Regions from separate parts of the Homo sapiens genome. Here regions 1, 2, 3, 4, 5 and 7 are each reported to be linked to region 6. The links are microRNA targets in miRTarBase. Many come from high-throughput screens and were not tested one by one. Region 6 holds a microRNA gene; each other region holds the end of a gene's coding sequence. Distances are between the middles of the regions.
What was found. The annotated mature microRNA hsa-miR-6811-5p reads AUGCAGGCCUGUGUACAGCACU and lies in region 6 at 1,384-1,405, opposite strand. An mRNA with a match to its seed (bases 2 to 7 or 8) in the 3' UTR can be bound and repressed. Matches are read on the target gene's strand: a 7mer-m8 pairs with bases 2 to 8, a 7mer-A1 pairs with bases 2 to 7 and ends in A, and an 8mer does both.

Region 1 (4,077 bases), not on the chromosome of region 6:
TACTACCTGCCATGGTTCTAAGAAATTACATGGTTATCAAAATTGATCTTAATAAGCTCCAAAGTATGAAGCAGGGCCAAGGGCTGTGATCAGACCCAGTCCACATCCCTCCCCTTCCTCTTCCTAGATCTTGCAAGATGGTTCCCTTGTTTACAACTCCACTGGATGATCCCTTTTATAGCCAGCAGCTCCCTAGATGCAACTGGTGACTGGATGTGAAGATGGCTACCACCATAGACTGTAAGAGCCTCTTCCCTGAAAGTGTCTTCCTTCACCAGGGCCTGCCAGTAGAGAAATGCAGGGGGCTTTGAACCTCAGCTCCAAACTCTAAAATGCCTTGCCAGCAACGTGATTGGAGCATACTGCTAAGTGGGAATCAAAGAAGCTGGAATTTCACACTGATTGCAGGAAGAGTGGCGGAGAAGGTTCTGTCTCAGATCAGGAGTGGATGGTTGGGCTAGGTTTCTAGCAGCCTTTAAGCTCCCTCCCTTAGAAGCTTTTGTTGTCTCTCAAGGAGAGACACCTCTGCCCAGCCCTACCGTTCCTGAGTCGTCTTTCATCTGGGGGAGAAAAAAAGATGTGAAAGATGGAACCTGCTGTTCTGTTTCAGCACAGCAGGCCATGAAGACAGAAGGATTCGGTGTGGATTCTTCCTCCCAGCAAAGGGTGGTCCCAGGAATCCAAGGCCCTTGAGAGGTGGGCCACCCTCGTTCCTCTCTGAGTAGGGGAGGGGGCTTCTGTTCTCAGATGTTGTTTGAAAATCTCCGAGTAATCTTAGAAGAAGACAGATGTGAGGTGCAAGCAATCCTTTCCTCAGGGGTGTCTTCGCCACTCATGGATAAGGTCGTGGCTTAGCCCTCAGAATTGAATCCAGGCTGACAGGCAGTTGACACATTTCCAGGGTGTGGAATTTGGGCACCAGGTTTCAGCCACAATTCTGCTAGGCCTGGGTGTTTCTGCTCCATAACTCCAGGAACTGGGAACCCTGCCAGTTGTTTGTTGCCTGAAGTTCATCCCACCACACTAGAGAGCAGGACGGGATTCTTCTGAGCAGCAAGATGGACCCAATCATTGCAGAACATTCTATGGGATTCCAAAGGGAAGGCTTCGGGGAGTTGCTGTCATGTGCGGGCCACCAGCATTTTTAGAGTGAGAATGAGAGGAGATGGTCTGGATCTGCGAGATGACTCGACTCTACGGTCTGTGCATGATCATGGGGGAGGTACCAGGAGCAGGCAGCTGGGGATGGTCCCCATGTGGCTCCCAGGAACATGCTCTCATTTTGGAGAGCAGACCAGGTTTTTTGTGAATAATTCAGTATTATAAAAGTAGGAGGCAGTTTCTCCCACCAGTTCAATACCAGCTGAGAGCATACTTGTTTCTCACGGGTTAGTATCTCTCAGCAATGGGGGACTGTTGCATTATTATCATGTGCAGAATGTCCAAGGTGCTTCCTCGTGGGGTATCTGGAGAGAGACCAATTCACATCCTGTGCTTTGGGGGCAGGTGTCAGAAAAGGTGCAGGTCATAAGCCTGGGCCCAAGGGAATGTCACAGATGGGGGAGGTTCCTTTATCCAACAGAGAACAGGGAGATGACCTCCAGGGTAGCTACCCAGGCCAGGGAGGCACTCCTGAGACAGTCTCTGAGCTGGCATCAAACACCTACTTCAAAATGACCGATGTGGCATAAACCCAACCTAAGGGGTCATGACATACAGCAGATTGAGCTTTTAGACGTTTCCTGCCTCAGTCCATTAGGGCTCTCTATTTAGAGTTGCCAGTCATGTGAGCTGATGTGCACTCTGGCCTTGGAATTTCAGATAAACCATGTGTATTGCAGCAATGTTGGCAGGTGAGTGGGAGGGAGACCAAGTTGCCTTTACAGGATGTCTCGGGTCCTCCACACTCGCAAACTGACTGCAGGGTCCGCACCTCCATACATGCTCCAGCTCATTTGGTCTCACCGGGGCAGGGCTTATCTGGCCCCAGGTCCCCTTGGAAGTCATGTAGGCTGACTCGGTTTCTCTGGGGTGGGGGGGCGCTGTGTGTGAGTGATCTCAGCCTTCCTTAAAGGCCATGAACAATCTTCCTTTTTGCTACGAGGGGAAGGCACAGTATAAACCTTCCAGATGATTCTCCAGAGATGTCCTCGAGCCTAGGAGATGCTCCATGCTCACCTGGGCAGTTCTCATTTTAAGCCACTGAGTTGAAGCAGTTCCAGGACAAGCCCATGGCTTACCATCTAACCGTCACCTTCCACCTGCTTTTCTCCTCAGGTTCTGCTGTGTCTCTGCCTCAGATTAAGGCGAAACACACAAACTTACTCTTGCATAGTCCATTTCACGACATCCTTCCTAGTTAGTTTACCCTAGAAATGCAAACTGCCACAACTTTGCTGAGCATCTGAGGACGGCTATTGCTCTGTGAGGTGCTCTGATGTGAGCTCACTGGAGGAGGAGCCCTGGGGGCTGCCCAGCTGCTGGTCCCCATCCTCCTCTCCACCTGCCAAGGTCCCTGTACTCTGAGAGCCACCTGACATGGGAGGAACAGAGGACTCTGTCTTAGGGGATGCAGAGTTCTGTTATCAAGGACAATGTCGGGGGCAGACGGGATGGAAAATGTTTTTAGTGGAGAGACACATGATCTGTTAAGTGTCCACACTGGGTCCAACTTCATAGTCATGGAGCCTGGTTTGAAAACCCTGGAACCTTCTGCAGTGGTTCCCTGACCCAAGTCTCTCATGACTGTAGGGCCAATGCTACTTTGGACACGCTGGATGACGCCGGGTTACTAGGTTGCTGCTGATGGCTGGGCCAGATGTCTGAGTCCCCCCACTCCAAGCCTGGCGAGGGCCTAGGTGGCCTCAGGCTATGGAGGGCACTGGTCCTTCCTGAAGCCAGCCATGGGGGAGGTAGGGGAAGTTCTCTGAACTCAAGTTGCACATCACTAATGGCTCCTTGCCAAAGCCACAGGAATATCCCTCTGGAAAAGTGAGCTGTGACAGTGCCAGGTGTCTAATGACTGTTGGTGGAAAATGCAGTGAAAGGAACCATGCCCCCCCCCCCCCCCCCCCCCGCAAAGCCAGCCATCCCTAGGTTAGGCCAGGTAATAACCTTAAAAAGCAAAAGGAGAGGCTAATAGTCATTCTAGTCCCCACGTGGGAAAGAGTGGAGAGGCTGGCTCTGCATGAACCTTCCTATATAGGGGATCACCTTTGCCTCTCAACCATGGCGCACCCAGCCTGACCTGGTGCCCACCCTCCTGCCAGCCCTGAACTACAGAAAGGTGGAGGAACAGCCCTTGCAGCCCAGGGTAGACCCCAGAAGCAGAAGGACTGTGTGTCCCAGTCTCTCCAGCGAGGTGCTGCCTTGGTCTCTCGGGTCACGGTATCATGCGGCTCGAAGACTGATTAGTTTAATCGGGGTGTTGTGTAACTGTTGGGAATCGTGTGCTCTCAGGATCACCAGGTGGACGTGGTTGTCACGCTGAGGTGAGGGGCCAGCGGCAGTGGCTGGGGTGGACGCAGCTGGTGCCACGCACAGGGCCCGTGGCTGCGGTTTTGTCGAGGTCAGAGGTCACCGCTCTGGGGCTCCACGTTGCGGGTCTCCCGGGGCTGACCCCGGGACAGTTTGGGGAAGCGGGAAGCTGCTTTGGGCCGGCTGTTCACAGGCTCTCCGGGCGGGGTGATGTCGCTGAAAGAGCAGGGAGAGAATCGGGTTAAGTCTGGGGATGAAAAGCAAATGACCACAGGCCAGGAAGGGGAGCCAGGTGTGAGGGCAGGAGGGATCTGATTGGCAACTGTGACTGGCTCATTGGATCTGCCTCTAACTGGTGCCACCTGAAGAAATGAGAAACCCCTATTGTCACGTAAACCTTTCCATTTTTTTTTTTTTAACAGCACTCCGAGGCTCCAACCAAGCTTGGCTGTGAGTCTGAGCTAGCTCATGGTACCACCGTTCCGGTCTACATTTTAAGGCTATGAAAGAATGTTCTAGGCACAGCTTTCTTCCCCACATTTTCCTTGATTTTCCAGCAAAGGTACGCTTCTAAGTCCAAGGCAACTTTGGAGAACACTA
Region 2 (4,077 bases), not on the chromosome of region 6:
CGGACAATGACCCCTTCTCCCCTCGCCGCCGCCTCCTCCCCGACACCGCCCCCTCGCAGCTCACAGGCAAACCTATTAGCCATTCAGGCCGACAAAACCCCGCGGCCCCGCGCATTGTCCCGCCGAGCGCCCGGCCGCCGTCATTAGCCCTGATTACGCAGAGCCGCCTGACAGCCCCGCCGGCCGCTCCACAGACCCCCCATTCACGGCCGCCCCCGGGCTCCGCCTCACAAAAGGAGCGGAAATCGTCCGCGCTCTCGCGTCCCCGTTGAATAGAGCGAAAAGCTGCTTCTCCTCTCCTCCCGCCCCATTCACATTCTCTTTGGATACAATATTTTTTTCCTTTTTGTTAAAATTAGGGAGAGGGAACGAGGTCAAGGAAGACTTTGCTTGAGCTCTTTGCCTGTCATTTGTTTAATGTAAACAAAGAGCAAGCCCTCCCCACCCCCATCGTCTTCTCCCCTCCCTCCCAGATTTTTTATAAACAAACTGGCGAAGGGAAAGGAGGGAGTGACGGGTGGAAGTGGAGTGGGTCATTAAAGTGGAGGCGAGAGGAACTGCGGCATTTGGGGAGCAGGGGCCGTCGTTTTTTTTGGTGAAACTGGAGTGTGGTTGAAATGTTTATAAGCCGGAAAAGAGCCTGACCTGGGGCTTGGGGTAAAATCTTCACATTGGTCAGGTCCGTTGAAATATTTAATATAAAAATGCTCTTTCCACTCTGCTGGAGTAGCTGCTTTTTGGGAAATTGTGACAGAAGAATTGCAGGAAAAGAAAGGAAGGAAACCCATTATATAGAGATTTTGCCAAATTCAGAAACCTTCAGCCTTGCCATTACCTGGACTTTTTTTCCCCCCAAAACCCTGAAGACCAGAATGAAGCTGATATGGAAAAAGTCTTAAAAAGAAACCCTTTAAATGTCCTTGGGAAGATTGGAAAGATTAAAATAAAATAAATCTCTGTGAAGATCTGGACTAATTTCCAATATGTGGTCACCAAAGAATTGGTTATTCACAGAGGCAATTAGGTGCCATCACATTACAGATAAACATTTAAAAAAATCTTACAAGTAATGTGTCACCCCCTTAAGATTCTAAAGTGAAATTAAATAAATAAATATCCAGATTGTTGAAACAGAATAGCTACTTTAAAATGTAGGCAGCTTGTTAATTTAAGTAAATGGTAGCTGTAGTTTAAAGGCTTTTGTCAAAGCAGGAATTAAAAATGCTCCATCACTGTTTGGTCTTCTCTTTTTGTCCAAGCAATAAACTGTCACTTAAAAATTATTTTGTAAAGAGAAAGCTTAGTTTCTTAGTTACCCTATTTTCTTGACACTGCGGAATGGACATTTTCTTCTGCTTTTAGGTATCATTTGAAGGGGTGGGTGGAGTGGGATTTTTAGAATCTCAAATTCTTTTACATTATTCCACTAATTAGTTATTTCCCATCCCTCTAGGACTTGGAAGCATAAACTTAAGAGAAAATTTGCCAACAAACTTCTCCAAACACTGGTTCTGGACAGCCCCATAGCTAAGGGTGGGGTGGGGCTGGGGAACAAGAGTGGATATCCGTGGCTACTCCTTGTCAGATTAAGGACTAGGATGAGGCAAAGGAGGCACTTAGAGTGCAAAATTTAAGGAGGCACTCAATCTCATGTGCCTTGCACTTGCTGCACTTGCATAACCTTGACCGTGAGTCCCCTCCTGGCCTCACTCTAGTCCTCGCCAGCCCCTCGTTAGCATTCTAGGAACTACCTGGGGCTCTAGGAAACAAAATTAAGTACTGAGGAAGCTCTACAATGGGAGCCTTTCAGGACCCACAGGAGGGCTTTTGCTTGCTTTTGGAAAGAACACCAGTTTTATCACGAAAACTTACCCACTCCTTCCATGTAAAGCTCTTGTGCAAGAGAGTTTTGATTTTCAAGAATTCTCTGGATAAGGGCCACCATACACAAGGACAACATTTATAAAGCCCAAATGAGCCAAATCTATTCAAGCGATTTAGAAACCAAAAATCAACCCTTACTCTGTCCTGGGCTTCCATTGTCTATCTTGCCGTTTGGCTGCTTTTTGTCTTCCATGACTTCACTTATTTTTGTTTGGTTTGCACTTTGGCACTTCTGCCTAAAGAAGTTAGCAGGCTTCTGATCCAAAGAACATCTTCTAAGGACAGAAAGGCAAATGGAAAAGGCTGTAATTGGGGGATGGGGACAGTAAAGAGGGAAGTCAGCTCAAGTGATTTAAAGATCAATGTCAAATTTTATAATATGCAATCTGTTTCACTAGGAACAAAATTAGAGACTCTGGCTAGCATTTATTTTCTTAGTGCAAAGATGGTAGATGTTTTTGCGTTGTATATGCATGCATTTGTTCATGTATAGGTGCATACATGCATGTGCACGAGGAAAAATTAAATGCTAAAAATATTTTATGTTTTAATCGAGGCCATTACCAGGACAATGAGGCCCTTGATGACTTGTTCTATGCTTAATTCGGAGATTAGGTTTTTAAAATGCCAGTTATTTCTACAGCCTTGTTTTACCCTCAGTATGTGACATGATTACATCCTTTCCCCCATCTCAGTATCCCTCTTGTTAAAAACCATTCATTTGATTAAAACCAAATTCTGCAGCAAGAAGATGTTAGTCTAATTATTTACAACCTCTTCTATCATCTTTTGTCTTATTTTAATAATAGCTCAATCCTAAATGCAGTATATGCTCACTCTAGCATGATCATGGGTGCCTGCTGCTTTTGTATTGGAGGGGGCCTTGAAGGAGACAGAAAGCCTTTCTTGCTGCAGAGCCTGAGTCAGGATAGTTTTGCATTTTTAGAAAATAGGACTCACTTATTGAGTCCCATAGTTTGGCTTCCTAAATTGCTCCTGAAAGCTGTTGACACTTCATGTAAACGAGTGTCAAGTGGACAAGCCATAATTACCTGTGCTGGGGATGCGGGGACTTGCCTTAGAGAGGACGCTCACATGTTGCCAATTTCTAGCCTTAAATATATCACGTGTATGCATACATACATATGTTTGTATAGGTACATACATATGTTTGTATAGGTACATACATATATGCACATACGTGTAATTTGACGTGGGAGGTGGTTATAGACCTACCATAGGTTGTTTAAAACATATACCAGGAAGCACCAAAGAAGGCAAAAGATATATAGGTAAGACCTTCCGGAGACCATTTGCTCAAGGGTCCCTGCATGCCTGGTGAAGGGAATGATATTAATAATAATAAGAAGAAAAGGAATCTGAGAGCAGCTCCCTTAATTAAGAAGGTTGCCCACTAGGTTGTTTTATTGTTTGGCTTCTCCACACAGAACCCATCACCACCAGCCTGCATGTTTAGAAACAGCAAGTTCCCCAAGCTACAGAGAAACCTACCATGGCGGTCTCTTAAATAAGTAAATAAACAGCATATATATGTTTTGTTAAAAAAAAACTTTAAAGCGAAAGTTATACATATGTAACAGCGTCCTTTCGACGTGAAATACCCATGGGAGAATCTGGGCAGGCGCTCAGCTTGCAGTTCGGGTTCCGAAGGAGACTTTGCAGCAAAATCCTTAGGAAAAAGCAAAGCAAGAAGAACGTGGTGCTGGGTCAGGCCTCACCGCTGGTTCCCGTGGTCGCGGCCAAAGGGCGCCAGTGAAGCCAGGCCGGCCGCGGGGTGGGGCGGGAAACGGCAACCCGAGCCCGCGGGTCCCTGGTCACCTGGCTTCTGTGGCGCTGGATTTGCAGGTCTCTCATCTTCTTCCCCTCTTTCATTTTGTTTTTCTCGTTTTTACACTGGAATCTGCTTCTGAGCATCCTGGATGGGCAACTCAGATGTCGCACTCGCTGTCGCTGGACGTGATGGAGATGGCTGAAGTGGCCGCCTTGCTGGATAGACTGGCGGCCGGGCTGGTGGCGACGCCCAGCACCTCTGGCGTGCCGTCGCCCTCCGCCCGTAGTGCCCGCCCGGAACCCTGTGACAGGACCTGCTGCTGGAGTCTACGGGGAAGAAAGGGAACACGGGTCACAGCTCGTAACACAGCCGCCCGTCGCCCGCCCCCACCACCTCCTGCG
Region 3 (4,077 bases), 120 Mb from region 6:
TACCCTGTCTCTTATTTAAAAAACAAAAAGTGAGACCGTATCTCTTATTTAAAAAACAAAAAGTGAGACCCTATCTCTTATTTAAAAAACAAAAACAAAAAACGCTAACTTGGGACAAGTTCTTGGGAAATTTTATCCTAGTGTTGGTTCTGCCACTGACTTGCATCCTGTCCACATAGCTTCAGGCAATGGAATAAATAAGGTTTGAGGTTCCTTTTCAGCTCTAAAGCTTTCCTTAATTACTGCTTTTTTTTTTCTTAAGAGTTCCAGAAGACAGCGAACAGTGTGAGAGTCTCATTTCTATGCACAGTGTTTCTCAGGAGGATGGAGCTAGTTAGCTGTCTGTTGTCTGTAGCCCAGGTTTGTATGTGAGCTGGGTTTAGTATTGAATAAGGTTCTTATCTGTGTAATATTCAAAGGATTGATTTTCTATAATTAGTTGTTTGAGAGGCAATACAGCCTTAGAGGCTAAAGGGGCTAAAGCCTGGACTCCAGTTCCGTCTTCTCCACATACTAGCTGTGTGGCCCTGTGCAAGGTTCTTAATCTCTTGATGCTCCAGCTTTCTTATTTGTGAAATGGGATTACAGTAGAACCTCCCTTATGAGGGTGTTAAAATAGTAAATACTTGGTAAATATAAAGTATGTATAATAGTGCCTGACTCAAATGATCAGAAAGTTTTAACTCATTTTTATTCATGCTAAGGGTCATTTTATTTAATAATATGCTTTAGAAAAATATTTTTTCTCTGATGATAAAAGAAAAATGTAATATTCTGGTGTACAATATACTGGTTGGAAAATACTAGTCTTTATGTGTCTGTTTTACATAACTGGCACAGTGTTTATCCTCATTCTCTGACATTGCTTTGTCATTTAACAATGCTTCTGGAATTTTTTTCCATTTTTTCCATTTTAAGAAATAGTGTCTTTTATATGTCTTCGATGATAGAGTACATGACATTTAATATTTTGCTGAATGAAAGCTTGAATTAAATGTAACGTACAGATTTTGCAGGTACAAAAGTGATTATTTAGAATGAAAGATCACAAAAAACTACTAGAATTTTTCTAGTTTTTCTAAGACATCTTTAGGCAATTTATATTGAAGTGTTTCTTGATTGCTACTGAGTTTTCCCTCCCTATCTAGAACATTGTACAACTCCTGTCAGTTGTTAACACTTATATTAGGCTTGAAGGTTAAGTTTCATTATCCTCCTGGTAAACTTGCTTCTAACCTACAGCTAATGGTCCTGGTTTTCTGTTTTTCTTTAGTGTGCTGTTTTTAAATCTAGTTTATACCTGCACATGGTTTGAGCTCTAGTTCTCCAAGACTTTTTGTACAAGGCAGTTACCCCTGCCCTTCCCTGCCCTGCTCATCCTGCTTTCATTTTCTTCCCACTCTGAGGAAATTAAACTCTTAGCTGATTCTTTTGGTATTTTCCTTCTTGTCTCCCTAAGTATCATGCTTATGACTTGTGTTTCATGAGTTCTCGGTTTTAGGCATCTTCAGCTGACTTTCCCACTAAGATCAACGAGGACAGATTATTTTCAAGTTGACTCCTCCTCTGCTCCCACCTCATAGGCCTCCTGTCTCCATATCAGTTCTGCCTCCTCATCATCCCTGTGTAGTTGTTGCATAACTTTGGATAGATCTGTAGTCAGTGTTTATATTGTTGTCACTAAAAAATTGTTACTTATGACTGAGCTATGTAGGATTCGTCCTGGTATTTCCCTTATCCAGAGATTCTCTGTTACTACCCTTTTTGGAGAGTAAACCTTAAAGTCTTCTCCTGGGGTAGAGAAAAGGCACTTGGCCAACTGTGAAAAGTAAGAGAGGGCATCTGAGTGTCTGTCTGCTTTTTCTATAGACATTATACCAGTCTTCATGTTTTTAGTTGTTTCTTCACCCCTCCTTACAGAGATATCTGGTCCTGTTTTTCCATTGCTAACCAAGAGTTGGCTGTTATTTTCTCATCTCTCTACTTTTCTTTTTGTCCATGTGGTTTATTCCTTTTAAGAAAAAAATTCCAGGCTGGGCATAGTGACTCATGCCTGTAATCCTAGCATTTTGGGAGGCCAAGGAGGGAGGATAACTTGAGCTCAGGAGTTTGAGACTAGCCTGGGCAACATAGTGAGACCTTATTTCTGTTAAAAAATATATTTTTTTAACCCTTTGTTTCCTTTTTAGTGAGGTTTTGGAGAACAAGTGGAACTAAATATATGTTTATGTGCCATCTTTAAATTTAAAAAAACGTAAACACAATTACAGTAAGTCCTCACTTAACATCATCAGTAGGTTCTTATAAACTGTGACTTTAAGCAAAATTACAGCAAAACTTTTTTTTTTTGCATCAACATTATAACATAACAACACTGAACGAAAAAATGTTATTCGGGGACCTAAAGTCAGTTTCCTAGAACCTATGACATTAAGTGAGGACTTTGTATTCTTGAAAGCTTTTTAATGCTGTAATTTATGCATTATTTTTCTTGGGTATGCTGTGCATTGTTCTCGTACTCACACTTAAACCTACCCATATCCAGCAAGGTTTCAGTATTTTTAGAAGTGAGAGCTGTGTAAAGGAGAGAGTGAAGACTAGGGAGGATGGATTGCAATAGAGTAGAATAGACTGGGCAGGTGACTTTGTCTTTGCAGGAGTAATGGTGGAATATACCAGGAGTACAACTAACTGCTAATACACAGTCTTTAGTGTTGATGTCAGCTTTTGACATTGCTATAGAAGTCACATTCATAAGTTCTTAGTACTCCAAATTTGAGTATCCAGTTATTAAGTATGTATACAGTGAAAATAGGTATTTCAATTTTAAGATAATTTGCTTTTTAAAATGTAAACTATAGAAAACTAAAACTGTGAAATTATAATCTAATCACATTTCTGTGGTTTCTGTTTTTAGCTTGATAATGGAACTATACAGCGAAGAGACAATCTCTGGCAAGTTTTTGTAGAAAAAATGTTTCAGTGCCTAGTCTGAAAAATAACAGTTTGAGTTCTTTGAAACTCTAAAATATATTTTTCTCATACCTGTTTTCTTCATTTTCATAATGAAGCACTTTGCTATGTAGCTGTGTACATATCACTACAGTTATAGGAAGTTTCAGTCTACAGTCCATCCAAAGGACCAACCTGCCTTACACATCTCAAGGAATTCAGCTGTTGAAATCATTTGAACTAATCAAGGAATAAATCCTAATGTTCTGGGACTTTATTTTCACATGTTAAATGCTGGAATATATTATGAAAATGTTTTCAAGAAATCACTTAAGTGTTCATAGACCAGTATTTCTGACAGGTAAAATGCTAAAATAAGCTACCTGTAATAAGTGTGGATTATATTTTTGGGTTTTGTAGAATATTGCAAATTAACCACACAAAAAATGTTTAATTTATGCAACAAGCATGTTTGTGCAAATTTCATGGGACTTTAAAAAGAATAAGTATTTGAGAAAATATCTGGTTCACTTACACTACATTTACTGTATTATTCTTTTATAGCATTAGGTGCCTTGTATTTTAAATCTGTGACAAACCATGGCAAATTTTTAAAGGGGAAGTATTATTATAAAATGAAGAAATATGTATTTCTAAAGGCTATATTGCTGTAAACTTAATTGATAAAGCTCTGTTTAATTTAGAGTTTTGAAGAAATAGTCTCCCTTCAATTAAGAAATTTTCATAATGGAATGATTTAAATTGAAGTGACAAAGAGTATTATTAAAATACAATGTTTATACGTCTATTTGTGTATTGTAGATGTATCAAGTGATTTCTAATTTTTTTCACATATGAATGTGCCAGATTACTCTAGAACTAGATGTCTCTTCTTTAAATAATTTTAGTTTTCCTGAATAAATTTGTAATGGTTAAAGTACCAAGTAAGTAAGGCGAGAAGGGATTCTGTTTTTAAAATCACATCAGAACTTTTCCTCTACTAAGATTATAAATTAAATGTAAAATACTCCTAATTGCAATTCTTAAACTTAGGCCTTACATGTACTTATTATGCAACTGCTCCTGGACTCTATTCACCATAGATATCAGTAAACGTATGTCCCA
Region 4 (4,075 bases), not on the chromosome of region 6:
GTGTGGAAGAGAGGTGAGGGTGTGCTTTACTTTTTGATAAAGAGAAAGATGTTTACTCATAAACCCTTCAAAAGGTATTAACAAAATGTTTACCAAACCTATTGCTTTATTTTAAAAACATAATTTGTGTTTTCTATTTGTAAGATCTGACATTTCGAGGCAATAAAAACTTCTCAGAAAGTGGTCTGCCTTATCATTCAGTGGGGCAGAGATGGCTCTTAGAAGTCCCTGCAAGACTGTCACACATTCCTGAGGCTCCTGTCTTAGGTGTGGGGAAGGGCTGGGCTGGGGCGGGGGAGTGTGAGGCTAGAGAAGCAGCAACTGTGGTCTTCCACAGGAGCATCTCACTGTTGCCAGACCTTACCATCTGGGAGGGATATTTTTTAAAGACAAGGCTGTAAAGGTTACTGTTTGCCTACATGGAGGGACTGCAACTCAACATCCAGCACGACCCTGACCTCTTTCCATGCTGTGTACGCGCTGGAATGTGAGTGACTGCTGATGAGAGAGTCCACTGTTGTTTCTGGCTCTGCCTCAAAGGGTGGTTGAAATGTTTGTTCTCTGATTACCTCAGCCATGCATCAGCTTGCTGTGGCTGGGGCCCATGGCTCAGTCCCAGCAGCTGCAGTCTTGCGTTACCATTTTTCTTCCTAACTGGCCAACGTCCTGTTACTCATCCCTCCCCAGTTGTGATCACCTTGTGCGTGTTACTTGAATATGCTGCTACTATCATCTGTGTTCTGTACATTCTTTCCATAGAGAGTTGTACTGTGCCTGTGGTATTCTAGCATCATATTTATAGCAACTCGTAGCTGGGGAGGAACAATATTATGATTCTATTTTAAATGATCTAGGAAGGGACCCAAGCCTGGGCTGTTAAGAAATCTAATATCCATAGTGTCTGCTAAATACTCTAACTGTACATCTCTTTAGATCCTTTGGGTCCCTGCCTTTACTAATCTGGAATCACTTTTTTTTTTTTTTTTTTTTTTGAGATGGTGTCTTTTTCTGTCGCCAGGCTGGAGTGCAATGGCGCAATCTCGGCTCACTGCAACCTCCGCCTTCCTGGTTCAAGCAATTCTCCTGTCTCAGCCTCCCAAGTAGCTGGGACTACAGGCACACGCCACCATGCCCAGCTAATTTTTGTACTTTTAGTAGAGACGGGGTTTCACCATGTTGGCCAGGATGGTCTCGATCTTTTGACCTCATGATCTGCCCGTGTCAGCCTCCCAAAAGTGCTGGGATTACAGGCGTGAGCCACCACACCCGGCCAGGGCATCACATTTTCATGACACATGCTCAGAGGACCTAAATCATCCAATGTTTTCATTCACTCCTTTCATAAGGTCTTCATGTGGATCTGTGTTCAAACATTAACTGTCATCACTGCTTTTTTACTGCCTCCTAACAATATAGCTGACAAGTAAAGAAAAGATAGTTCTTACCATTGAGATATTTTTCTAGATACAGTGTTCTGGGCATATGAGGCCTGGAATTTCTGCAACCAACTTTGGTACCATAAAAGAAGTCAGCCTGAGGATGCCAGCACACATAGGTAGTGCTGAAAGAATCGTAAAGAAATGGAGCTGGAGTCTTGATCAAACCCTTCCTGAAGCTAATCTTGTAATTTTTCAGTTATATGAGCCAGCTATCTTTATTGTTTAAGCTAGTTTAAGGTAGGTTTTGTCCTTTCACCTAAAGAGACTTAACTGATAAGAGAATTCCCAATGTATTTAAGTGTAAACATCAAGCTTCTTATCACACCCTTATAAGCCCCTTGCCTCCTTTTCTGACCTTTTCTTTCACTTCCTAACTCTTCACCATGCTGTGATTACATAGTTCTTATTCCTTGAATAAGACTATTCTACCTTCCAGTTGCTGCTCCCTCCTTTCTAACGGCCTGCTCCATATCTTAAGACATTTAACTCCTGGGCATTCAAGTCTCAGCTCAAATCCCACCTCTTAGCCTGGACAACATAGTAAGACCCCATCTCTTCCCACCCCCAAAAATGTTAGCTGGATGTGGTGGTACACACTTGTAGTCCCAGCTACTTGGGAAGCTGATGCAGGAGGATCACTTGAGCCCAGGAAGTTGAGGCTGCAGTGAGGTGTGATTGTGCCACTGCACTCCAGCCTGGGTGACAGAGTGAAACCCTGTCTCTAAAAAACAAAAAAATCCCATCTCCTCAGGGAGGACTTTCTGATGATCTAATTTAAGTTACGTTCCCCACTGCCCACCCCACATTCCTTCTTGACCAAAATACCTTGTGTTTGTTAGAGTTCTTATCCCTATTTGAAGTTCTTTATTTTTGTGTTGGCTTGTTGATTCTGTTACCTTGACTATAATATAAGGCCCACAGGGCAGGGGCATTGCCTGTGTCGTTCATTTCTCTTTCCCAAGTGTCCGGCATGGAGAAGTACTCAACAAATATTTGCTGAAATAGCAATGGCCTTTTGGATACACACACTGTGTATGAGGGTCCAGCTGGGGGAGGCCCTCTGGGTAGGGTTTAAGAGCAACTGTCCATTCCAGTGCATTCTCCTCGGGGTTTAGTTGTCTTCTTCCCATGTCATGCAGTTGTTTCATCTATGCTGCCTAGTTCTATTTTTTTGTCTCTGCTCTCTCAAGAATCTGTTTCTTCTTTAGGAGGAAATAAGAAAGGGCACTTAGTGTTTAGTTGTGAACGCAGACTCTTGAAGGTGAGAAAAAAGAAGATTTGACTTCAAGAATACAAGAGGAATGAGCAAATGACAGTAAGGAGCCGGAGGCAGCCAGGCTGACCTGTGTCATGAGCTGTCCTACTCACTATGGTGTATTCAATCAGGCATAAAGCTGTGATTCTCCTAGGGCTCAGAGGAGGCAGCCATGCTCTTGTCTTAGCAGAGGTCAAAGTACAAGAACTGATCAGAGCAGAGGGTTTTTCTATTTATTACAAAAGTTGTTACACAAATACAGCTGACCAGAAGGTCTAAAAACAGCCCAGACTCTTCCAACCCTCATGCATCTGTAGATAGAAGGAGAGCTGTGGTCTTGCTCACACACAGGGGAGCCCTTCTTAGAAGAACTGCCTGTCCCTTGGAAGGTTCAGAGTCTTGGGTCCAGCAGCAGAGAGGAGCCCAACCTGCGTGGACAACCCCTTGAGGCAGCCCTTGGTCACAGCTGCTCTGGGTGGGCAGCAGGTTTAAGTTTCATAGTTCACATGTTCCCACCACACAAGTCAAATCAAGGCATGAAAATAAAAGGGAAAAAGGGGAAGGCTGGAAAAGGGAGCCTGGAAGAGGTTGCAGGTAGGGGAAGGAGACACAGTGGGCTTCCGAGAAGCTGGCAATTTCTTGACTTGGATGGAGTTACGTAGTATTCACTTTAAAATTATTCTTTAAATTGTACGTACATGTTATATACTTTTCAGTATGCATATCTTTAAATTTTAAAAATTAAAAAAAGAGGCTAAAAGTGAATAAAAGGGCAGATGATGGAATAGAAAAGAAATTAAAGAGGAGAGACGACGAAGGAAGAAGATGGCCAAGGTGGAAAACGAGAAAGTCCTGGAGGTGATAATGCTGGCCTCAGTTTCTCTTCTTCTGTCTGGATACTGGTTCTACTTCTAGATACCGGAGCCCGACCAGCATACCCAGGATGGAGAAACCTTAAATACAGAGGAAAGACTAGTGACTAACATACATACGGTACCTTTCTTCTCTCTCTCTCCTGTGTCCACCCTCTGTACTAGCTCTAGAGCTGGCACAGCTCCTGTAGGAGGTCTAGGGTGGTTGGATGCTTACTTGCCACCATCAGGGGTGCCAGGACGCCAATCGTGGGAGCTGCAGTTCCATAGACAAACAACTCAGAGAGGAAATGCCCCAGGGCAAGGAGGAAGGTCCAGAGTGTGATGTGATAGAGCCTATAAGGAAGCAGACAGAAATGGGAACCAAAGTTACTGTTTGTTCAGAACAGAGGAAAAGTATCAGACTTCATACAGACAAATAAGAACCCAGGATGTCATTAAGACTTAAAAGAAAGGACACTTGTTCCTGAGGAAGAGCTGGTTATTTGATCACAACGATATTCTCATCT
Region 5 (4,000 bases), not on the chromosome of region 6:
GGCCTCCTGCTCTGGGGTTGTAGGGGGTGGAGGCCAGGGGGACCTAGGGCCACTATGCATCAGGTAGGAGGCACGTGCCTACCCTGCCAAGCCCCAGGCTGGCTCCTTTCTGTACTCAGTGTCAACTTCACAGGGAAGGACAAGAGGGGGTACCAGTGGCACACCAGGGCAGAGTCTGGAGGTCAGAGTCTATCCTGATGGGCTGGGGCAGCTGGGACAAGGTGCTGAACTTCCTGGTACTTTGGCCCACCCAGCTCTAAGCGAGAGACCTCCCAGTGTCAGCAGCCTGGTATTGGGAAGAGTTAAAGGAAAATCTCCTGGACCAGGTGGACATCAGGGCTGTCAAGGAACAAGGATGGTGGCAATCAGAAATACCCAGTCCTCAGGGCCCCTGGTGAATAAAGATCCTGGTGGTCAAAGATGATGACAACTAAGGTGAAGAGAAGCCATGGCTGACCAGGGACATACAATCAGAGTGATTTTTAATTAGGGACGGTGAAGTCAGCCAGAGATGATGTCCATCAGACACAACCTGGTCAGGGAGGGGTGTGTTACATGCTGGCCATCAGGAGCCAGTGTTCAGGGGTCTTGGCAACCAGAATTATCATTGAACAAATATGTCATCAATCATTGATCAGGGGGCATGGGTGGCTTCGGCTGTGAATGACCGGGAGCATTAGTGGGGAAAGTATTGGGTGTCCATGTCCTTGGTGGCCAAAGGTATACGAGATATTAGTGACCAGATTCAATGACTGGAGACATGGGGTCCAGAGATCTTGGTGAAGAGAACCAAATGCAGACCATCAGGGATCAAGGGCACTAGTGAGCAGAGACATCAATGATTAGAGAATTTGGTGATCAGAGACATTGGTGACTGGGTATTCTGATGACCAGGGATATCAATGACCAGGGAGGTCAGTGATCAGAGGTATAAGGGACTTTGGAAAACGGGAACATTGGTCAGCAGAGACTTTGAAGACGATTCAGCAATCACTGATGTTGGGCATCAGAGACATTGGTGATAAGAGATCTTGATGATCAGTGTTGAGCAATCAGGGGTATTGAGAACCAGAAACACCAGTGACTACATTGATAGGAAATATGATGGGGAGAGGATCCTATGATCAGGGACATTGGTCATCAGGCACATTGCTAGTTAGAAGTAATGGTGATCAGAAACAACTGACCAAGGACATTGTTAAAGAAACACTGGTGATAAGAAACAGTGTGATCAGAGATGCTGGAGATTACATGTGAGTGATTGGTCTATCACCAGAAAAAACACTTATCAATTACATTGGTGGTCATACTTATTGATGCCCTAGAACATTAGTGACAAAGCGCATTGGCGATCAACACATTGGTGAGAAGAGATACTATGATCAGGCATACTACTGGTGAGCAAAGATGGTCACTAGAGACATTCGTGATCACATTTTGTGGGTGTCAGTGATCAAACTCATGGTTAAGCAGAGGCATGGATGAAATATTGGTGATCAGTTGTTAGTCATCAGGTGTCTCTGATGGCAGGCTCTCATGATCAGACATGTCATTGATCTGGAATATCAGTCATGGTGCCTATCATTGATGACCAACATCACTGATCAAAGATGACAGCAATCAATGACATCAGTGATCACAGACACTGCTGGTCAAGTTTGCCAATGAACAGGAATATTGATGACCAAATATCTCAGAAACCAGAGCTGAGAGAAAGTTCAGCACCTGGAAGGAAGCAAATGGAGATGGGGTTTGCAGGAGCCTCGTTGAGCCCTCAGGGGTGGACCACAGGCTGGAGAAACCACGGCCTCCCTGCACCTCCCCAGTATCTTCCCATTCACTAGGACCCCTGGTGCAGTGACAGGAAATCCAGATGGGAGCAGTTCAGGGGAGGAGCCTCGGGACGTCAGTGGCAAAATCAGACCCAGGCCCAACAGAGGCCCCATCCTGGATTCCAGGGGCTTTCCCCTCGCAGCCACCCCGGCGACAAAAGCAATGCAATCTGGCTGCCCAAATTCACACCCGGGACCCAGCACCCTGGGAGCCCACAAGACAGGCCAGGGGCATTCACAAAAAGTATTTTATTATTCTTAACAGTACTCACTTTAAAGGAATAAGAGGATAGCATACATTTTTTACAGACAATATATAAATGTTGTACATAATTAACAATAACTTAGTTCACTAATCCAAAATAAAACAAGCCAAATAAAACATAAAAACAGAAAATACTGCCGATTCTTTTTCTTATGCGGACACTAGTACAAAATAAGTTACTTCTGGCCGTGGTGCTCCCTGCAGCGACTGCCCGCCCATATTGCACTTGGTCACTACATCAGCACAATCCTCCTCCTGGGCCAGGGGCCCCTCACAGGCCACCACACCCCGCCGTCACCGCATACAGAATCTAAGCTCGGGACACGTTTATATACAGCTGTACCTTGGGAAGGATCCAGACAGCCACAGTAAAGCTGGACCTGAGACCCCAGCAGGGACACAGCCTCTCCCTGGGTCCTGGTCCTGACCTGCCCCCAACTCCTGCCTTCACCCCCTGCCAGGCCAGCAAATGCCAACCAGCCCCCAGAAACCAAGGGCAGCAAAGGCCCCTCCCCACCCCCAGCTTTCATACTAGGGCTGTGGGATCCCAGCTCTTTTCCAAAAAGAATTGCAAAGCTCCAACCTTGTGTGTAGGTTTTATTCCTTTCATAGCAGGGCTCCTGTGGCTACGTACAATCAACTGGACCCAAAAAGAGTTTAAAAATAAAACAATTAACTCATCAGCGAGTTAAGCCTATGCATTTTTTTAATATTTTTTCTTTTGTCTCAGAGTAGGAGGCGAGGGGGTTGAAGGGTTAGCAGAAAAAGGATGTATTTACAGGGTCCACCTGACAAGACAGGCTGTGGCTTGCGCTCAGTAAGGGGACACAGTCACAGCAGCTTCGGCCTCAAAGCCAAGGGAGCGATCTGGGAGACGTTTCCCCTTTCAAGAAAATGTTGTTTCCTTCCTGTGACCCAGCCCTGGCCTGGGAATCTGTGCAGGACCGCCCGTGATTGTCTCTGCCCTCCAGGGCCTGGCCCGTCAAAGCAGGCACCAGCTCACCCTCCCTGGGCCGTGGCCACTCTGGCTTTGGCTCAGCCCAGCCTGGAGTTCGGCTATTTCAGAGAGGGAAGCCAGAGGAGAAGAGGGTGCAGGCTGAGGTCCCCACAAATCTGCCCCCAGAGCCCTGGCAAGTGGACCCGCCAATCCCGAGGAAGAACCGGAGGACTTGGGACAGCTCAGACCACCAAGTCTCCAAGTCCTTGTTAGAAACAAGAGCAAAATAAATTATTTTTGCCTAATCCTTTTTCCTTCTAAAAATGGTTGCCTTCGTCTGTCCCGTCCCCTCCTTTTCTCTACATAAAGTTGTCCTTGTTGTTCTCCAAACAACTGTCCATGCAGGAAACCCCACCTGGGCAGCGGTCAGGTGCGGAGGCAGCCTCTCAGCGGTGGGGAACATTCACAGTAACTGCTGGCAGGCTGCTGGGCGCCCTCCAGGAGAGGGGGTGCTGGGCCGAGCCGGGCTGGCAGGAGTGGTGTCGGCCTTCGGGAAATGCTGGGCTGCTAAGGGTTTGGTCCACCCATCCCGGGAGTGCCCGGTCCTCGACGTCCATCTGTTCCCTAGCCCATGGCGGTCACCATGCTGGACGGGTGGGGGTGGCCGAAGGAGAGGCTGGAGGAGGGGTGGATGGGCGTCGGAGTGGGCAGGATGTGTCCGGAGTGGCTGAAGGGCGGGAGGTGGCCCACAGGTGCCATGTGTCCAGCCAGGGCAGCTGCACTGAAGGGGGATGACTTCTCCTGCATGCACTTTGACAGCTCCTCGAAGCACTCCGCCCCTTTCTTGCTCTTCTTGGACTTGTTGGACATCTTCCGGTTCCGAGTCTGGATCCCTTCCTTCTTCATGGTCAGTGGCCTGTTAACCTAGAGGCAACCACCAGTTTTCAGAGGGCCAGTTCCTTCCTC
Region 6 (4,077 bases):
GGCTAAGATGCCTTGAAATGCCTGCAGCAGGCCCGGCGAGAGCTTGAATGCTCAAAGGTGTCTATGCCAACTTCTGCTTCTTCAATCAAACTTGAGGCTTTAAGAGACAGGCACGAATAAGGTGTCTCTCCAGAAGGAAGGCCTGGGGGAGACGCCTGGGCTGGGGCATGGTGAGGACGCCCCAATCCAGAAGCACAGCCTCTGCCCTGGACGTGCCCAGCTGCCGGAGCCAGGCGCTGCCTCGTGGCCCTGGAGAAACTCGCCTTGGTCTTGCAGATGGAGTCATCCAGGACACTGAGACCCCAGACACCTGGCTTGGTGGCGGCTGTCCCACCCGAATGCTTGGCCGGGCTTAGTGGCAGAAGCCTTGGACTCCAGGTAACAGGGACAAGGTGAGCTTTCTCAAAAACACTGATGGGTTAGCTCCCTTCAAACTCAAATGCAAAAGACCCCCCGGCATCCTCCCACCCTCTCCCTGAAAAGATCTCTTCCAAATGCCTTATGGGGGATCTTACAGGCGAACACATTGTTTAGTTTAAGCCTACTGCCTGGATTTCAAATTCATCATGAAATAAATACTTGGATTCAAAAGATGAAAACAACTGAATTACAACAGATTTCTCTAAATCTTGATAATCACCAGATTCATGTGAAATGTTTGTTGAAAAGAGAGAGCCTAGGCCCCAAACCAGATGTCCCAGGGAAGAAGGGCTTGGAAAACATGTAGTATTAACAAGCACCCTGGTGATTCAATCAGCAGCTGGGTTTCAGAAACTTGGCTTTGAGTTCTCAACTTACTTTGAAGATTTGAAAACAATATAATTTCAAATATTGGCAACTTCAGCAGCACCCAGGACTTCTGAGGTGCTCAGACCAGGCCAGTGGGATGCAGAGGTTTGCACCTCACATAAAAAGGAGCCAATTTCACAGGGCACAGTGGCTCACACTTATAACCCCAGCACTTCGGGAGGCTGAGGTGGGTGGATTGCTTGAGCCCAGGAGTTCGAGGCCAGTCTGGGAAACATGGTGAGATGCCTGTCTCTACAAAAATTAAAAAAAAAAAAAAAAAGCAGCCAGAAGCAGGAATTCACAGAGAGGCATGTGCATGCACACACATGTGCACACACACATGCACACACACACGTACACACACACATGCACACTCCAAAGGAACCTGCTTTAATATTCCTAAAATGCCTGGGAACAAAAAGCCGTTCTTACTCTCCACTCCTTACCTCCACCCTGCAGCCGCCCGTGGAGGGACCGGATGACCTTGGCACTTCCGAACCTCTTGAAGCGGGCTTTCACATGCTCATAGTACCACTCCAGTGAGCCGATCTTCACGACTCTGCAGGGACAAGCACAGGCTCATGGCACTGCCTGAGTGCTGTACACAGGCCTGCATAAATCTCACACACACACACACACACACACACGAGTGTGTGCATGTGTGCGTCCACCCTTCTTCAGCTAGCCCCATGGAAGGGACACGCCAGATCCAGAAACTATCAAGGTCATTTTACCTCAAGGCCTGGGCTCACCTGGCCAGATGGCAGGGGTCACAGATCCAGCCCTGCTCCTCCGGGTGGACGCGGCCACAGCTTTTGCAGGTGAAGAGGCCACATTCCAGGCACTGCCTTTTGCTATTCACAAGCAGCTGGTAGGGCTGCAGGCAGCGGGCGCAGTGGGTCTCGTTCAGATGGGCAGTGTCGGAAAGCAGCTCCCTCTTGGAGCTTTCCTTCTTAATCTTGCCCTTCAACGCCCTTGGGAAAATATCAGAAACAAGAAATATATTGGGCATCTTGTTTTTGCAACAGGCTTTAAGTGTGTACACGTACATACACACACACACAGACACAGACACATACACACACACAGTAACTGTCTCCTATGCAGAAAACAGTGACCCAACGTTGGGCAAAGCCACACAGGCATCTTTGTTTTGAGGGCTGAGCTCAAACGGGCAATTTTGGTGGCTGGAATGGAATGGAAACACGTTAATTTCATAGAAATGATATTGCATTTAAGCATTTCTGTGGCTGTTTACAATTGTACCAATTTTGGTTGGCAGGTCACTGCGCCCTCCCCAGGGCAGTCACAGAATCCTGGGGGCAAAGCCAGATGGTGTTTCCTGATCAAGCATTGTTTTGGTCTCCTTCAGCAGGGGGGCAAGAGTTGAGCTAACGCCCCAGGTTTGCTCCTCTAGAGCGCAGCTGAAATGGCTCGGTGAGTTTCCAGAGCAGGAATCATCTAGCACCCGGAAGTCTACAGTTCTCCTAGACCATCCGAGTTTAAATAACACAGCTTCCTGGTGAACCTGCCAAGTTGAACTGATTGGAAAGTGTATCCTTAGATGATAATGAACACATTTCTTTTGTTCTAGATTTCAGAGAATGTCTGCCAAACGTAATATTTTCAGTTTCAGATGAGATAAAATTAATCCATTCTTAGTGACAAAAACAAGAAGGACACTAGGTGCCATTGTCTTCTGAGAACTCTGAAGCACACTGATTTGGAGGCGGACACCCAGAGTGCAGCAAAGGTGAAGAGAGTGGAGGAGTCCCACCAGGCAGGGGGAGGCCACCTCCGGTTTCAAGTGCAATTGGCTGAACTTCACGATTTTCCTCTCTCCACTATTTACAAAAATGTTCACTGAGATGGACACGAAATCAGGCTCTTGTCATAGCTTCAAAAACCAAGAGAAAAAGGGTCAAGCAGTTGTAGGAATCTAGGGGGATACCGCCATCCACAGACTACAGTTTAGATAAAGCTGCATTGACAAGGTAAAGTCTTTGTCCCAAACAGAGGAGCACAAGTCCCTGGAGCCAGATGGGAAGGGCCTCACTCCCTCCATTTCCACCCTTGCCAGCTCTGCACCAACCAGAAAACCTGGAGGCCACCCCTTCGCTGGACAGGGCTTGTTAGCCTCTGTCCCAGGGAGAACCTCTTCTTCTGTATCCAGGCAGAACGGTACCCTGAGGGCCAGCACAGCAGGAAGAAAGACAAGGACATGTGTACTGCCCTGCATTCCAGGCTGGAGGAGTCCTCTTAAATAAGAGCCCAGAAGTGTCCTGGGGCAGCAGCTGGAGGCTGATATATTTCAGAGGCTGAAATTAGGGGAAAGGAGAACTGTACTGTGCTTTAGATTCTTTAAAACATAACTTCCCTTCTTCATAGCCAGAGACCAGGAAGGGAGGGCAGAGAAGACTCCATTTGGGGAGACCAAATGACATCTGCCAGCCACTCCAGGACGTATCAACAAGACCCGGAGCTTCCGATCCTGAGGAGTGAATGGGGCCAGAGCACTCCATGCACTCTGCTAATTGGGTTGACCAGAAGTCACTCCTCAACAGGCAAGAGCCCGGCACGTGGCTCCAATTTAAAGTTAGCTTCAGGAATAAAAGACCCTCCTGAATGTGACTTACCATCAGAAACAGACTCGAAACAAGTCAGCTTGGTGTGCTGAATGGGGCATAAGCAAGTACGTGCAGTCTCAATGAGAGGGACAGAGGAGACACAGGAGGAAACCAGGCTGAGATGGGAGCACCACCGGCTATGCTGGTGGAGGTGGAGAAGAACTGGTTAAGACAGAGATGGCGAGAAATCACAGCTCACAATGGAGGGGGAAATGGGCACAATTTCTACCGTGGAATATTAGATCCAATGATTTCGAAGAGTGGTCTTCAAAGTGTGGTCCAGGGACCTCTCTTCTGGAGGTTCCTAAGATCCTTTAGGGGGGTGAGTCACAAGGCCAAAGCTATTTTTGTAATAATGCTGAGACATCATTTGCCTTTTCTTTGCTCTTTGATGCCTGCACTGAAGGTGTAAAAACAATGGTGGATAAACTGCTGAGGCTTTAGCACGAGTCAGGGCAGTGGGCCCAACTGCTCTGACAGTCATTAGATCCTTCATTGAAAAAGAAATGAGCTGGGTGCAGTGGCTCACACCTGTAATCCCATCACTTTGGGAGGCTGAGGAAGGTGGATCACCTGAGGTAAGGAGTTCAAGACCAGCCTGGCCAACATGGTGAAACCCCGTCTCTACTAAAAATACAAAAATTAGCCAGGCACAGTGGTG
Region 7 (4,077 bases), 170 Mb from region 6:
TATAATCCTGATGGACAGCCCATGGGAGGTTTCGTAATGGACGGTCAGCAACATATGGGAATTAGAGCACCAGGTAAGACTTTGTTTTTGTGGTAGTTCCTCATTTTTGACTCCAAGAGTGTCATCCCCTCATCAACACAGGTAAATCCGCCTCATCCTTTTCTGTTATCTCAAGCTGGCTGCCTTGCCTTGTCTGCTATCTGTGCATCTAAGATATTGCAGAGGGGAAGCCAGGATCTTTATGCACTGAAGATCTCACTATTTCTCAACCCTCTAGATCCTGTTTTTTTTTTAAGGGTCTTTTGGCACTATCTGTTGACTTTGCTCATTTTCTGGCCTCTTCTTGGATTTTTATCTCCCTTCTAGGACCTATGAGTGGAATGGGCATGAATATGGGCATGGAGGGGCAGTGGCACTACATGTAACCTTCATCTAGTTAACCAATCGCAAAGCAAGGGGGAAGTAAGTACAAATGGGGTCTTTGTTTTCACTTTGTCCTAGGAATATTTTTCCTCTTGCATTTTCTTATGTTCTCCTTGCCCATAGCTTCATGCTTGTTCATTCCTTTCCATTAAACTCCTGGTTTCTTGCTTCCATCATTTTCTTTTTGGTTGTGATCAAGCTTTTAAGCTTATAAATACTGTGTATGATGTACATTTATCCTGTGTGTTGCTATTGTACAGTACTGACCACATGACAAAACAAGAAGCAGTCAGGAGGTGGGGGAGTGGGTTGTCATAGCAACAGACTGATTTGCAAAATGTAAGCAGTCTGCAGCAGTGCAAGGAGAGGGAAGAGCATGTCCCCAAAGTGTCATAAATCTGTCTAACCGCAGTTGATGCATGAGTTACATTTCTACACTAACCTGCAAGACACCGAAAAGCTAAACAGAGACTTCTTTTAGGTAAAATAAACACAAGCTTTACTTAGGGTAAGTAAAGGCATATTTTGAGCTCCAGTCAACTAAACTTTGATTTTTTTTCTTAGTTTATTCCTTTGTCTGTCCATCATAATGGGATTACGTGTGGCAATGGGAAAAGGGAGAATACAAAATAGAGGTGTGCACAGCAGGCTGCGGGGCTTAGCCCAGGCTAATTGACTATATCCAAATTAAGTATGCCATCACTTGCAGTGTGACAAATGGATTTGACTTATTCAGTATACAAAAATAGAGATCATTAATGCAATCATCAGTGGCAGGCCTAGTGAAGTGGGCCTAGGAAAACTGTCCCAGATTCTCACTCTTGCATTTTCTCTCCTATAAAGACACTCCAGCAATTCGAGTTCAAACAAGTAAAACTGTTTTGAACACCAAGGCTCTTGTTCACTTCCTAAATTACCCCTAATAGCACTGTTCTTGCTTTGTTTTTGAAATTAAAAGCAGTTATTTCAGAGTCTTGCTTGTGTCTCTGATTATATTTATGCACTATTTAAAATCACTGCTGAGGCCAGGGGTAATTCGTACTGGTCATCTTCTCTGGGTGTGAGTCAAATATAAGTTTAACAATTAGCTCTGAAAACATTCCATTGAGCTGGGGAATGCAACAGTCTTATTACCTCATCATGGAATTCTCTAGCTTAGTTAATTTAAATATTGTTTCTTAGTTTCTGGGTCAATTAAATTTAAATGATGTATTTTATGCTTCGTGACCAATTAAATTACTAGGTTATTACAAAAAAAATTATCATCTTTTTTGATTAAAGAGCTGTGGGTACAGTATATTTTATAAGCAATTTTCATTAGTTCAAAAATGTTCCTTTAGGCTAGATTAAGCAGCCATTCATTGTTAGAGCCTGGAGACCTTATTCGAAGGTGTTCATCGTATTCACAGTGCACTATTACTTAGAACTAAAGCCAATTGAACCTACTTAGCAATAGCGTTATGCCTTTCACCCTTGATGATTATGGAGCTTATAGCTCTCAGAAACAATACACCTGTCAGTTTCCATCAACTATAGCAATCCATGCAGAAGACAAGAGGCCCCCTCAAAGCAGGAGGGGTATTGTTTTAGGTCCAATTTTTCTTATTGTTCTCAAAATCATTATAAGGTGGACAGTGTTTTGTGAAGATTTTCTTTTCCCCAGCTCTAAGAAACCATGTGGAAAGAATTCATTGATAACTGTTTTGATTTTTTTCTTTTTTTAAGTACAGGTTTTGCTAAGTAATCACCCTTAGTGAGCCTGTGTAGTTCAGCTGCCTGTGAGATGTTTGGTGACCAGCTCAGTGTATTCTTGTATTCTTGATAGAGAATATTTCAGGAGACAAAAGTGCTTCTTCAGACCAGACCTCAAATAACAATTTTATTCTTTTTAATAAATAAGACCTCAGTAGGCGGACCTGATAACAGTGACAATGAAAGGAAAATAGTGGCAAAATGTGAGTTTCCAGCATGATGTTTCTCATTTTATTTTCTTCTGTATGAATCAAAAGAATGCTTTACAAAACCATGTTCCCTTAATCACAGGGTTCTCTGGCTTTTATAGGATTGTCATAGCCAGGACCACACTATTGCTTTTTCATAACATTTTCTTTTTGTTTCTTTCTTTTGAATTTCTTACAGGGCTGCAAAGTATGCCAGGGGAGTATGTAGCCCGGGGTGGTCCAATGGGTGTGAGTATGGGACAGCCAAGTTATACCCAACCCCAGATGCCCCCCCATCCTGCTCAGCTGCGTCATGGGCCCCCCATGCATACGTACATTCCTGGACACCCTCACCACCCAACAGTGATGATGCATGGAGGACCGCCCCACCCTGGAATGCCAATGTCAGCATCAAGCCCCACAGTTCTTAATACAGGAGACCCAACAATGAGTGGACAAGTCATGGACATTCATGCTCAGTAGCTTAAGGGAATATGCATTGTCTGCAATGGTGACTGATTTCAAATCATGTTTTTTCTGCAATGACTGTGGAGTTCCATTCTTGGCATCTACTCTGGACCAAGGAGCATCCCTAATTCTTCATAGGGACCTTTAAAAAGCAGGAAATACCAACTGAAGTCAATTTGGGGGACATGCTAAATAACTATATAAGACATTAAGAGAACAAAGAGTGAAATATTGTAAATGCTATTATACTGTTATCCATATTACGTTGTTTCTTATAGATTTTTTAAAAAAAATGTGAAATTTTTCCACACTATGTGTGTTGTTTCCATAGCTCTTCACTTCCTCCAGAAGCCTCCTTACATTAAAAAGCCTTACAGTTATCCTGCAAGGGACAGGAAGGTCTGATTTGCAGGATTTTTAGAGCATTAAAATAACTATCAGGCAGAAGAATCTTTCTTCTCGCCTAGGATTTCAGCCATGCGCGCGCTCTCTCTCTTTCTCTCTCTTTTCCTCTCTCTCCCTCTTTCTAGCCTGGGGCTTGAATTTGCATGTCTAATTCATTTACTCACCATATTTGAATTGGCCTGAACAGATGTAAATCGGGAAGGATGGGAAAAACTGCAGTCATCAACAATGATTAATCAGCTGTTGCAGGCAGTGTCTTAAGGAGACTGGTAGGAGGAGGCATGGAAACCAAAAGGCCGTGTGTTTAGAAGCCTAATTGTCACATCAAGCATCATTGTCCCCATGCAACAACCACCACCTTATACATCACTTCCTGTTTTAAGCAGCTCTAAAACATAGACTGAAGATTTATTTTTAATATGTTGACTTTATTTCTGAGCAAAGCATCGGTCATGTGTGTATTTTTTCATAGTCCCACCTTGGAGCATTTATGTAGACATTGTAAATAAATTTTGTGCAAAAAGGACTGGAAAAATGAACTGTATTATTGCAATTTTTTTTTGTAAAAGTAGCAGTTTGGTATGAGTTGGCATGCATACAAGATTTACTAAGTGGGATAAGCTAATTATACTTTTTGTTGTGGATAAACAAATGCTTGTTGATAGCCTTTTTCTATCAAGAAACCAAGGAGCTAATTATTAATAACAATCATTGCACACTGAGTCTTAGCGTTTCTGATGGAAACAGTTTGGATTGTATAATAACGCCAAGCCCAGTTGTAGTCGTTTGAGTGCAGTAATGAAATCTGAATCTAAAATAAAAACAAGATTATTTTTGTCAT

Region 1: the mRNA of SNX29 is a reported target of hsa-miR-6811-5p. Seed matches in the 3' UTR shown: 7mer-A1 at 403-409.
Region 2: the mRNA of SIX6 is a reported target of hsa-miR-6811-5p. Seed matches in the 3' UTR shown: 7mer-A1 at 3,745-3,751.
Region 3: miRTarBase lists SLC35F5 as a target of hsa-miR-6811-5p. The part of its 3' UTR that is shown has no 7-base or 8-base seed match.
Region 4: the mRNA of ERG28 is a reported target of hsa-miR-6811-5p. Seed matches in the 3' UTR shown: 7mer-A1 at 3,283-3,289.
Region 5: the mRNA of GATA2 is a reported target of hsa-miR-6811-5p. Seed matches in the 3' UTR shown: 7mer-m8 at 3,188-3,194.
Region 7: miRTarBase lists MEIS1 as a target of hsa-miR-6811-5p. Seed matches in the 3' UTR shown: 7mer-A1 at 3,213-3,219.

Annotation. Positions count from the first base shown.
Region 1 is chr16:12,568,122-12,572,198 of GRCh38, reverse strand. It overlaps SNX29 (sorting nexin 29), which reads right to left. Exons shown (of 21, transcript NM_032167.5): 21 at 1-3,693. The coding sequence ends at 3,570. SNX29-AS3 (SNX29 antisense RNA 3) reads left to right here. Exons shown (of 4, transcript XR_007064988.1): 2 at 3,900-4,039. Among named protein-coding and RNA genes, the nearest start is that of SNX29-AS3, 41 kb to the left of the region's middle.
Region 2 is chr14:60,511,009-60,515,085 of GRCh38, reverse strand. It overlaps SIX6 (SIX homeobox 6), which reads right to left. Exons shown (of 2, transcript NM_007374.3): 2 at 2,236-4,002. The coding sequence ends at 3,834. It also overlaps a transcript of C14orf39 not described here. Among named protein-coding and RNA genes, the nearest start is that of SIX6, 3.9 kb to the right of the region's middle. RefSeq lists a silencer at 1-4 and enhancers at 1-227, 3,301-4,072.
Region 3 is chr2:113,714,036-113,718,112 of GRCh38, reverse strand. It overlaps SLC35F5 (solute carrier family 35 member F5), which reads left to right. Exons shown (of 16, transcript NM_025181.5): 15 at 263-360; 16 at 2,918-4,077. The coding sequence ends at 338. Among named protein-coding and RNA genes, the nearest start is that of MIR4782, 5.3 kb to the left of the region's middle.
Region 4 is chr14:75,647,988-75,652,062 of GRCh38, forward strand. ERG28 (ergosterol biosynthesis 28 homolog) reads right to left here. Exons shown (of 5, transcript NM_007176.4): 4 at 3,784-3,902; 5 at 1,804-3,647. The coding sequence ends at 3,568. FLVCR2 (FLVCR choline and putative heme transporter 2) reads left to right here. Exons shown (of 10, transcript NM_017791.3): 10 at 1-180. Among named protein-coding and RNA genes, the nearest start is that of ERG28, 11 kb to the right of the region's middle. RefSeq lists an enhancer at 359-653.
Region 5 is chr3:128,477,361-128,481,360 of GRCh38, forward strand. GATA2 (GATA binding protein 2) reads right to left here. Exons shown (of 6, transcript NM_032638.5): 6 at 2,067-3,958. The coding sequence ends at 3,659. Among named protein-coding and RNA genes, the nearest start is that of GATA2-AS1, 9.8 kb to the right of the region's middle.
Region 6 is chr2:237,508,260-237,512,336 of GRCh38, reverse strand. It overlaps MIR6811 (microRNA 6811), which reads right to left and starts at 1,406; the gene lies at 1,349-1,406. MLPH (melanophilin) reads right to left here. Exons shown (of 16, transcript NM_024101.7): 3 at 1,542-1,763; 4 at 1,236-1,348. RefSeq lists enhancers at 935-1,435, 1,436-1,936.
Region 7 is chr2:66,568,684-66,572,760 of GRCh38, forward strand. MEIS1 (Meis homeobox 1) reads left to right here. Exons shown (of 13, transcript NM_002398.3): 11 at 1-73; 12 at 367-462; 13 at 2,563-4,077. The coding sequence ends at 425. Among named protein-coding and RNA genes, the nearest start is that of LINC01798, 3.3 kb to the right of the region's middle. RefSeq lists enhancers at 211-2,291, 2,270-4,077.